Linked DNA regions of Homo sapiens. The protein of the gene in region 2 purifies or fractionates together with the protein of the main gene of each other region. This does not show direct contact. Each region holds a gene or a part of one and is shown on either strand. Other genes may lie near its edges.

Region 1 (5,280 bases), on a different chromosome or scaffold from region 2:
TGGAGCCACTCTATAGCCTGGCCTCCCAGTACAAAGCCTTGTGTGACAGTCAGAGCTTGTTAGCTACTACTCTACCCATCAAAGTCCTACGGAGCAAATGGCTGACAGGTTGGGAGGGGCTGACTCCAGATCACATGAGGCCATGAGCCACAGTCTGGGTCTACGTCCAGAGCCCCTTCCCAAGACAGTTCAAGGGATGGGTTTGAGTCTATATTCATTGTCACTGGAAGGTGGGTGGCATTGTGTCTATTTTACAGGAAAGGAAAATGAGGCTAGGACACGGAAGCTCAGAATAAGGGCCCTCTGCTGGAAACTCAGGCTATTTTTTGAGGCTGAAACAAGCCAGCCTCCAACCTCAGCTGGGTTGTAAAGGCAGTGGAGGAACAGGGCCTTGTCTGAGACATAGCTACCTATAGTCTAGGCCCAATTCCCAGTTAAACAGCTGTCAGCAAATTTGGAACCCAAAGCCTTCACCAGTTTATGACCAGAAAATAACCAAGCACTGCAACCTCCTTGCCAGTGACATTTGCTGGTCTAGATGGTGCAGATACCCAGGAGGCTAATTGGGTAGGCCAGATCCTCTGTGCCAGCAAAGCTCCTGAGGCTCCAGCAAGACTCCCAGGGACTGTGTTCTGCAAATGTGCTCCATGGTGCCATTCATTCTTTCTTCTCTCTCTCCAGCTTGCCTCTGACACACAGCTGGTGTATTTCTGTTTCCCCACTTCAACTTCATTCCACTTGTCATGCCTAACTCATGGCAACACAAGCCATGAGTGGTGTTACTTGAATCACCCAGAACCATAATTTGAGGTCCCCCAGATTGGACCTCCTACCCCACAACTCTGAGCCAATCCTCTTTGCACATGCATAGTTGCCCCAGGCCCTGTTGTTTCTGATGCCTTGCGGCTGGGTTGTGGCCATCTACCAGCAAGTTGAATCAGAGTCCTAGCTCCACCTCTTACTTGCTGTATAAACTCAGCTGTTCCTCTTCCGACTCTGGTTCTCTTTCCCCCCACTATGTGTAGATAGTCTGCAAAGAGCTAGTTTATGATCTGGACCTAAGAATCATCTGCGCAGAGATAGGTTTGCCCCTTAGTGCTCCCCTCCCTTGTTTCTCACAGCCTTGTTTGAGCTCGACACCCTCAAAGGAGAAGTGCTAACTTTTCAACTCAAAGAAAGAAGATTGTTTCACGACCAAGGTCCCTTGATTCAAGTGAAGAAGCAATCTGTCTTTATTATGAGAAACTGGGGAGGTGGGGCCAGGCCAGACTCATGTCAGAAGGCCCCTCAGTGAGAAGCGAAGAAGCAATCTGTCTTTATTATGAGGAACTAGGAGGTGGGGCCAGGCCAGACTCATGTCAGAAGGCCCCTCAGTGAGTGCAGCCCAGGAGACTGGTCACATTCTGGGGTTGCGGAAGGGCCTTGGCTGCATTCAGTTTCTCCACATCACTGTAGCAGTACAAATTGGGACCATGGATGAGGTACAAGCCGGGACCATTGGCGGAACATGAGTTAGGGCCAAGGGACTTTTCCATACACAAGGCTCCGTCTACCTTCTCATGGGGCCAAGGAAGCTCTGTCCACGTGGCTTGGGCTCCTGACTTCAGGTCCAGCCACCACAGCCGCCGTCCTGGGGAGAAGGCACCAAACATAGCATGGCTTCCATGTCATGGGGATCCTGACCTAGGCCTTCTCATGCCCTGGGGATCCTGACCTAGGCCTTCTCATGCCCTGGTGGGGATCTATGCCACAGACAGGTAGCAGAACAAGCTGCCCTCTAAGCACCCAGAAGCCCCTCACCTGCCATGATATGGAGCCGAGAAGACCCAGGGCAGATAAAGGCCGCATCCACAGAGTCCAGGATAATCCCATGAGGGGTCCCGACTTCCTTCTCCAGCCGCTTCGGATAACCGCTTACTAGGGTATAGCCTCCCTTTGTCAGGAAGACATATACCTGGGTGCCCTGGAGGACAAAGGATGGTAATAAATACAGAGTTGGATATGCTTGTCCCAGTCTCTACCTCAAGCCTCTCCCCCAATACACACCTGGACCAGATAGAGTTTTTCTTCCCAGGAAAAGGCAGCATCCACTGCTGAAGGACCCTGGGGCCACTGATGAGCAATGGGCCAGCTATGCCAGCCATCCCGGCTGGTGTCCAGACGCCAGTAGTGGGTCCCTGTGGAATACCATAGGTTGCTCTAGGGCCGCTGGCAGAAGCCCAGGCAGAGAAGAGGCTAGTGATGAATGCAGAAATGAGTCATGAGAGGGAGAGAATGCATCCAGAGGCCAAGATGGAAGAGGCCAGGTGAGAAGGAGAAATAGAGCAAGACTTGGTCAGCAATGTTGGGCACTGTGCCCTGGCTGAAACTGGAATCAGCAGGTGCCTGAAAGAAAGGCAAGTGTGGAAAACAGTGGCTAAGTTTCCAGGTAAGGCCAACATCATGGGGTTGGCGGGCACTCCCTAAGGATTTCAGGTGTCCATGTACAGAGATGCGGTTATAGATAATGAAATACAGTGTCCAGAACTTAAAAAGGAAGCACCACTTCTACTGAATGTTCTCACTCTGGCTGTGTTCTCCAGTCTCTCCCTATGAGGTGGTGGAAGAGTGAGGGAGTAGCTGGGCTAGCACCCCGTTTTTCTTCTCCTCTTTTCACAACAACTTATTAAGGAATTATCTAGGCTCCCATTTGTCTTTTTTCCTCAATCCTCTTCAATTACACTTCTGTTTCCCTCAACCATTGAAATTGTTCTTATCCAGGTTGCTAGTATTCTCCAATTTGCGAAATCTCATGGTCAATTCTCTGTTCTCATCTGACCCTACCTCTCAGGAGCACTGGACTGCTCACTACTTCCTTCTCCTTTAAATGTCTTTTTTTGGAACTTGGCTTCTGTGACACCTGACTCTCCCAGTATTCCTCTTATCTTTTTTGACTACTCTTTTCTTCAACCTGATATCTAAATATTGGAATCCCCTACTTTGGGCCTCTTCTCTTCTCTCTCTACCTTCACTTCCTTGGTAATCTCACCTAGTCCAGGGGCTTTAAATGCCATCTATATGCTGATGACTTCCAATCTGTTCTCGTCAGCTCTGACTGACCTCTCCTTTGAGGTTTAGGCTCCAAATCAGCTGCCTACCTGACATGCTTATGGGGTGCCAATAGGCACCCAAAACCTAATATGCCCAAACTGATTTCTGCCCCCCACCAACACACACACTCCCTAGTCTTTCCCAATTTTAGAAAACAAAACCACCAGCCACTCAGTTGCTGAGTCCACGAAAGCTGAGTCATTCTTGAAGCCTCTTTTCCCTTCCCTACTCTGACTGATATCATTCATTCATTCATTTATTTAGAGACGGAGTTTCACTCTTGTTCCCCAGGCTGGAGTGCAATGGTGCAATCTCGGCTCACTGCAACATTCACCTCCCAGGTTCAAGCGATTCTCCTGCCTCAGCCTCCCAAGTAGGCTGAGATTACAGGCATGTGCCACCATTCCCAGCTAATTTTGTATTTTTAGTAGAGACGAGGTTTCACCATGTTGGTCAAGCTGGTCTCGAACTCCTGACCTCAGGTGATCCACTCGCCTTGGCCTCCCAAAGTGCTAGGATTACAGGCGTAAGCCACCACACCCGGCCTATCTTAGCTATTAGTTAATGCTGTCAGCTCTACCTCCAAAATATATCATGGTGATTCCTCACCACCTCTGCTGCTATCATCCTAGTCCAAGCGGTCATCACCTCTAATTTGGACAACTGCACGGATTGCTAGCTGGATTCCTTGCTTACATGCTTGTACTTTTATAACTTATGTTCTGCAAAAAGTCAGAGTGATCTTTTATAAAAAATGAGTTAGAATATATCACAGCCCTGCTCAAGACTTTCTGATGACTCCCTTTTATGGTTGAAAACCCTTACCAGGTCTAGGTAACCTGGCCACTGCCGTCCCTGCCCTTTCAAGTCACCCACCTGCTCTTTCTCTGTGTTCCAGCCTCACCAGGCTTCCTTCTTGATTCCTTGAAGTATGTGCTGCTCACCCTCCCTAAAATGCTTTTCCTCCAGCACATCGTGTGGTTAATTCCTTCTCATCACTGAAGTCTCAGCTCAAAAATCATTTCTTCAGAAGACAGCCCTCATTCTCCTCACCTCTATCCCACTATCCTGTCTTATTTTCTTTACAACCCTTAATATTACCTAAAATTATTCTCTTTCTTCCTTTCTCTTTCTTATTGTCCTCTCTCACTTTAGCAGAGCCTGTCAGGGCAGGCATCTTGTCTGCCATGTTGACTACTGTATCTCAGTGCCTAGGACAATGCCCACTTCTTATCAGATGCTCAACAAATATTTGTTGAGTAAATACCTAGTGTTCTTGCTGCTACCACAAGTTCTCTTATTAGCCGTGTACTGAGTATACAGCGGTGACTGACATATCCACCTCCCCTGGGAGGTTTCCCACTGAAATTACCCTGCTCAGGAACCATATTTATTTTATTTTATTTATTTGTTTTTTGAGACAGGGTCTCAATCTGTCACCCAGGCTGGATTGCAGAGGCACAGTCACGGTTCACTGCAATCTCTGCCTCCCACACTCGAGCAATCCTCCCACCTCAGCCTCCTGAACAGCTGGGACTACTGGTGCATGCCACCACACCTGGCTAATTTTTTGTATTTTTAGTAGAGATGAGATTTCACCATGTTGCCCAGGCTGGTCTAGAACTCCTGGACTCAAGTGATCTGCCCCCCTCGGCCTCCCACAGTGTTGGGATTATAGGCATGAGCCACCACACCTGGCCCAGGGGCCCTATTTTGAGAACCAGAGCTATGCTGCTTTGTGCAATGAAGTAAATGATGAGTTCCCAACCCATTAATGTAGCCAATACATAGGCTGGCAATCAACCACTTTAATGTGGTGTGGTCTGAAAATATGGACTGGGCCATTCAGATTCCCTCTCTGGAAATCTTACTAGGAAAAAAGAGCAACTGAGGGAGGTATCAGTTGGAACTGAGACTGAAAGATCATGAAGTAGTGAGAAAGTGGAGAGAACATGATGGTCCACGTGCAAGCCAAAGTTGTGAAGAAGCAAAGAGAATAGATAAAAACCTATGAGGGGCCAGGCGTGGTTGCTCATGCCTGTAATCCTAGCACTTTGGGAGGCCGAGGCAGGCGGATCACCTGAGGTCAGGAGTTCGAGACCAGCCTGGCCAACATGGTGAAACCCTATCTCTACTAAAAATACAAAAATTAAATTAATAAATAGTACATTGTAACCCAAAAAAAAATAC
Region 2 (5,280 bases):
TCCACCCCTGCAGCAAACATCTGCCTGAACATCCAGGTGTTTCCATACATCTTCTGAAATCTAGGCAGAGGTTCCCAAACCTCAGTTCTTGCCTTCTGCGCACGTGTAGGCCCAACATCACATGGAAGCTGCCAAGGTTTGGGGCTTGCATTCTCTGAAGCAGTGGCCATAGCTGGAGTGGCTGGAATGCAGGGCACGAAGACCAAAGGTTGTACCCAGCAGTTGAGAGGCTGGACCCGGCCCAGGAAACCACTTTTTTCCTTCTCCTAGGCCTCCAGGCCTATGATGGGAGGGGCTGCTGTGAAGGTCTCTGACATACCCTGGAGACATTTTCCCTTGTCTTGGTGATTAACATTCGACTTCTCATTATTTATGCAAATTTCTGCAGCCGGCTTGAATTTCTCCCCAGAAAATAGGGTTTTCTTCTCTATTCCATTGTCAGGCTGCAGAATTTCCAGAATTTTATGCTGTGCTTCCTCTTGAATGCTTTACTGCTTAGAAATTTCTTCTACCGGATACCTTAAGTCATCTCTCTCAAGTTCAAAGTTCCACAGATCTCTGGGGCAGAGGCAAAATGCCACCAGTTTCTTTGCCTAGCAAGAGAGACTTTTACTCCACTTCCCAAAAGGTTTCCCATCTCCATCTGAGACCACCTCATCCTGGACTTCATTGTCCATATTACTATCAGCATTTTGGTTAAAGCCATTCAACAAGTCTCTAGGAAGTTCCATACTTTCCCACATCTTCCTGTTTTCTGAGCACTCCAATTCTCTAGGAAGTTCCAGAGTTTCCCACATTTTCCTGTTCCAACCTCCACCTGTTACCCAGTTCTAAAGTCACTTCCACATTTTCGGGTATCCTTTTAGCAGCCCTCCATTCTACCTATACCAATTTACTATATTAGTCTATTCTCACGCTGCTATGAAGAAATGACCAAGACTGAGTAATTTATAAAGGCAAGAGGTTTAATTGACAGGAAACTTACAATCATGGCAGAAGGGGAAGCAAACATGTCCTTCCTCACATGGTAGCAGTGAGGAGAAGTGCTGAGCAAAAGAGGAAAAACCCCTTATAAAACCATCAGATCTTGTGAGAACTCACCCACTGTCATGAGAACAGCATGAAGTGTAACCGCCCCCATGATTCAATTACATCCCACCGGGTCCCTCCCATGACACATGGGGATTATGGGAACTATGATTCAAGATGAGATTTGTGTGGGGACACAGCCAAACCATATCAGATCTCCATGATATATAATTTTATTTTATATATATTTTGTGTGCGTGTGTGTGTTTGCGTAAAATATGTTACCATTTATATAAGAAGAATGTGGTATATGTTCTTTTGCATATATATATATATTAGAACATCTTGGAAGGATATATAAGAAATGTATAACATTGACTACCTATGAATATAGTTAATATAATTTAAACTATAAATACAGCTTTGAAAAAACCCAAACTTGCTATAAAGCATTCTGTGGACTGGGCACAGTGGCTTACGCCTGTAATCCCAGCACTTGGGGAGGCTGAGGCAGGCGGATTGCCTGAGGTCAGGAGTTCAAGACCAGCCTGGCCAACATAGCGAAACCCCTTCTCTACTAAAAATACAAAAAAATTAGTTTGGTGTGGTGGCAGGGTCCTGTAATCCCAGCTACTCCGGAGGCTGAGGCAGGAAAATCACTTCAACCTGGGAGGAAGAGGTTGCAGTGAGCCAAGATCATGCCATTGCACTCCAGTCTGGGTGATAGCCAGACTTCGTCTCAAAAATAAAAAGAACTCGTATCAAGACACTTCAGATTTTTCAGGTGTTAATTTGTAATGATGTAATTGCGGCCAAATTGGATTATGTTGTAAACTTTCAGCCAAGTTTATCCAGCTCTTGGCCTGTGGGTCACATGTGGCCCAGGACGGCTTTGAATGTGGCCCAACACAAATTTGTAAACTTTCTTAAAACATTATGAGATTTTTTTGCCCTTTTCTTTTTTTTAGCTCGTTGGCTATCGTTAGTATATTTTGTGTGGCCCAAGACAATTCTTCTTCTTCCACTGTGTATTAGTGTGTTTTCTGTGGCCCAGGGAAGCCAAAAGATTGGGCACTCCTGCTTTAAACAATTGCATTTTATATTTTATTATACAAGAAAAGCAAAGTTTGTTTAATTTAAATCCAACAATTTAATTTGCATTTTTACTTCACTAATCTAGGTATGGATGGCAGAACAGAAAATATCATATGATAAGAAGAAACAAGAAGAATTGATGCAGCAATATCTTAAAGAACAAGAATCATATGATAATAGGTAAGAAATTCTGTTATGCCAGTATATCTAGAATTATCAATTTCATGGGAATAATTTCCTACTGAATGATATATTAAGTCAGTTTTTTGGAATCAAATACCCAATTATAGGATTCGTGTCTTTCCGTGAGGGCTATCTCTTTTACTCTCATACCTGTAGATGACCACTTTTTCCAGCTTTACCCATAATTCACGTAAAATATAGATTCACGTGACTCATATACAGTCTTTGAGCAAGTCTCAAATTAGGCAAAGCTTAGAAGAACAATCATGTCTACACTTGAACTGCTGAGACCTCTTACAGACTTATTTCTTTAACACAAAAGATACCCAGCATACTTTCAAGAGGAAAGGTAAAGTGACTTTATTTGACACGCATGTCATTGTTCTGTTAAAAGCTGTTTCGTGGCTAGAGTTCTTCATTGGTGTCTTCTAACATGGTACCTGCCTTTAACTATTGTGTTTGTATATGCAGATCTAACACTGAAGCTGGTTTCTCTTGGTTAATCTTAAGCCACTGAATAGTGGTGTTTTGGTAAATTGCCCATGAAGTTCAGTTTTCAATCAAAATATGGAATTTAGCAAACTAATACTAAACTATTACTACTCTTTAAAATATAATATATTGAGAGGAAAGTTAAAGAAATAAAAGTTAAGTAGCTTTCTCACTAATTTTATTTAATCTTAGTAACTTTTATTGAGTACTCCATGCATGGCAATAAGTGGTATTATAGGGACCTATAAAAGTGTGTGAAGTGTAGTTTATCCTTAAGAAACCCTAGTAAGAGATACAAATACATATAGTTGAAGGCCAAATATAATAACTGATATATTAAAAACATACACTGCTTTTAAAAATACAGCATGTTAGTATAGGAAATAATAATTCCATTTAGGTTAACAGAAGACTTTATGGAAGAGGTGACATTTAAGCTGAACTCTGAAGAATGATAAGGATTTAGATAGGTGGTTCTCAACTGAGCGCCGTTTTTTGCGCCCTCCCTGCCACCCTGCCCAGGGAACGTGGCAATGTTTGGAGACATTGTTTTGATTGTCACAACTGCGGACTGGGGTGCTATCAACATCTAGTGGGTGGAGACTATGGATGCCGCAAAACAGCCTACAATGCACAGGACAGCTCCACACAACAAAGAACTATCTAGTTCAAAATGTCAATAGCATCACTGTTTAAAAACCCTAATTTGGTCGGGCGCAGTGGCTCATGCCTGTAATCCCAGCACTTTGGGAGGCCAAGGCGGGCAGATCACCTGAAGTCGGGAGTTCGAGACCAGCCTGACCAACATGGAGAAACCCCGTTTCTACTAAGAAATACAAAGTTAGCCAAACCTGGTAGTGCATGCCTGTAATCCCAGCTACTCAGGAGGCTGAGGCAGGAGAATTGCTTGCACCTGGGAGGCAGAAGTTGTGCTAAGCCAAGATCACGCCACTGAACTCCAGCGTGGCCAACAAGAGCGAAACTCCGTCTCAGATAAACAACAACAACAAAAACCTTATTTTTATATTATTAATAGTAAAAACATATTGGAAAATGGAGAGGGTATTCAGGAAACAGTTGTTGAGTTAGAGGGATAAAAACAGAGTGGAGGTGAAAAACTAGGTTTGAAACAGATCACAGTGTTCATGTTTATTCTTTATCTTTAAAAAAAGTTACTATTTTCCCTTTTAATTAATATTTGAAGCCCTGCAAATACCCTGTTTCTCCTTGGACTTTTGCCTAATTTTGGTATTCATCAGTAGATCTTGCTTGCATCAATTATATATTTCTGTGATGTTCTAATGGTTATTTTCTATTTCTATCATTCCCTCTACATTTATTAATTTGAATTCCTCTGTAAGGAAGAATTTCCCTTATCTAGTTACTATTAATTTTCTATCAATATGGACTCATGGCTGTTTATTTAATTCTTTGGATTATAATATAATACTATTGTTACTTATTTTCTTGCTCCAGTTGTTTCAGTTTGGGCCATTGAGAGCTCTGTTAGATTGGCTCGTATATCCATTTAACATGCACCAACCCTGTTTTGTTTTGTTTTTTTAATGCTGCTTCTGGTCCCACAAGGTGGTCAGACTCGTCTTTTATTTTCCCTGCTGCAGCATTGGAATCAACCAGTTTTCTTAGGCACCCAGATTCCTTTCATTGGTGAATGATATTTAGAAACCACGATCTGAGCACTAAGTGTGTTCATTGCTACTAAGATATTATTACTTCTAGGTTTGGTCATTTGAATGCAAATTTATGAGTAATTGGTCATTTGCCAAGTGTTTATTTCTTCCTCATTCAAAAGTACTGTTTTTGATAGCCAATTTCATTCTTCAGTAATCTATTGTTTCTCTTTTGTTTTTACTGTCCTAGAGATTTCTTAATGTTTATTATATCAATCACCTTAGTCGCTTTATACTTTTTTCCTAAGATGAAAAAAAAAATTTTTTTTTTTTTTTTTTTTTTGAGAGGAAGGTCTCACTCTGTTGCCCAGGCTGGAGTGCAGTGGTATGATTATGTCTCACTGCAGCCTCAAACTTCTGGGTTCAAGCGATCCTCCTGCTTCGGTCTCCTGAATAGCTGGAACTACAGGCACACACCACCACACCCAGCTAATTTTTTCTTTTTTGTAGAGACAGGGTCTCTCACTCACTGTGTTGATCAGTCTGATCTTGAACTCCTGGACTCAAGCAATCCTCCCGCCTTGGCCTCCCAAAGTGCTGGGATTACAGGCATGAGCCGCCATGCCCAGCTGAAAATCACATTTATTATTCTGTCTAGATACATACAAAGATTTTATGGGATGTCAAAAAAATCTATGTAAATTTTCAGTTGAGGTTGAAACAAAAATACCAATATTATACCTTTACCTTTTATTTTATATATGTCTTGAATTTTGCATAAAGTGGAAAACAATCTTTTAGTTTGGGTTTTATTATTATTTTTTTTCAATATAAATGAATTGGGCTGGGC

Evidence for each region. Proteins that work in one complex are often made in the same cells at the same time.
Region 1: the proteins of CIRSR (region 2) and HPX purify together in Homo sapiens (affinity purification with mass spectrometry; one large-scale study listed by BioGRID and IntAct). This does not show direct contact.

The regions. Positions count from the first base shown.
Region 1 is NC_000011.10:6,429,841-6,435,120, forward strand, and holds the end of HPX (hemopexin precursor), read right to left. Parts: intron 2,178-5,280; coding exon 2,047-2,177; intron 1,964-2,046; coding exon 1,801-1,963; intron 1,631-1,800; coding exon 1,371-1,630; 3' UTR 1,209-1,370; downstream 1-1,208. UniProt on the Homo sapiens protein: Binds heme and transports it to the liver for breakdown and iron recovery, after which the free hemopexin returns to the circulation.
Region 2 is NC_000002.12:174,384,709-174,389,988, reverse strand, and holds part of CIRSR (corepressor interacting with RBPJ 1), read left to right. Parts: intron 1-2,209; coding exon 2,210-2,304; intron 2,305-5,280. UniProt on the Homo sapiens protein: May modulate splice site selection during alternative splicing of pre-mRNAs. Regulates transcription and acts as corepressor for RBPJ. Recruits RBPJ to the Sin3-histone deacetylase complex (HDAC). Required for RBPJ-mediated repression of transcription.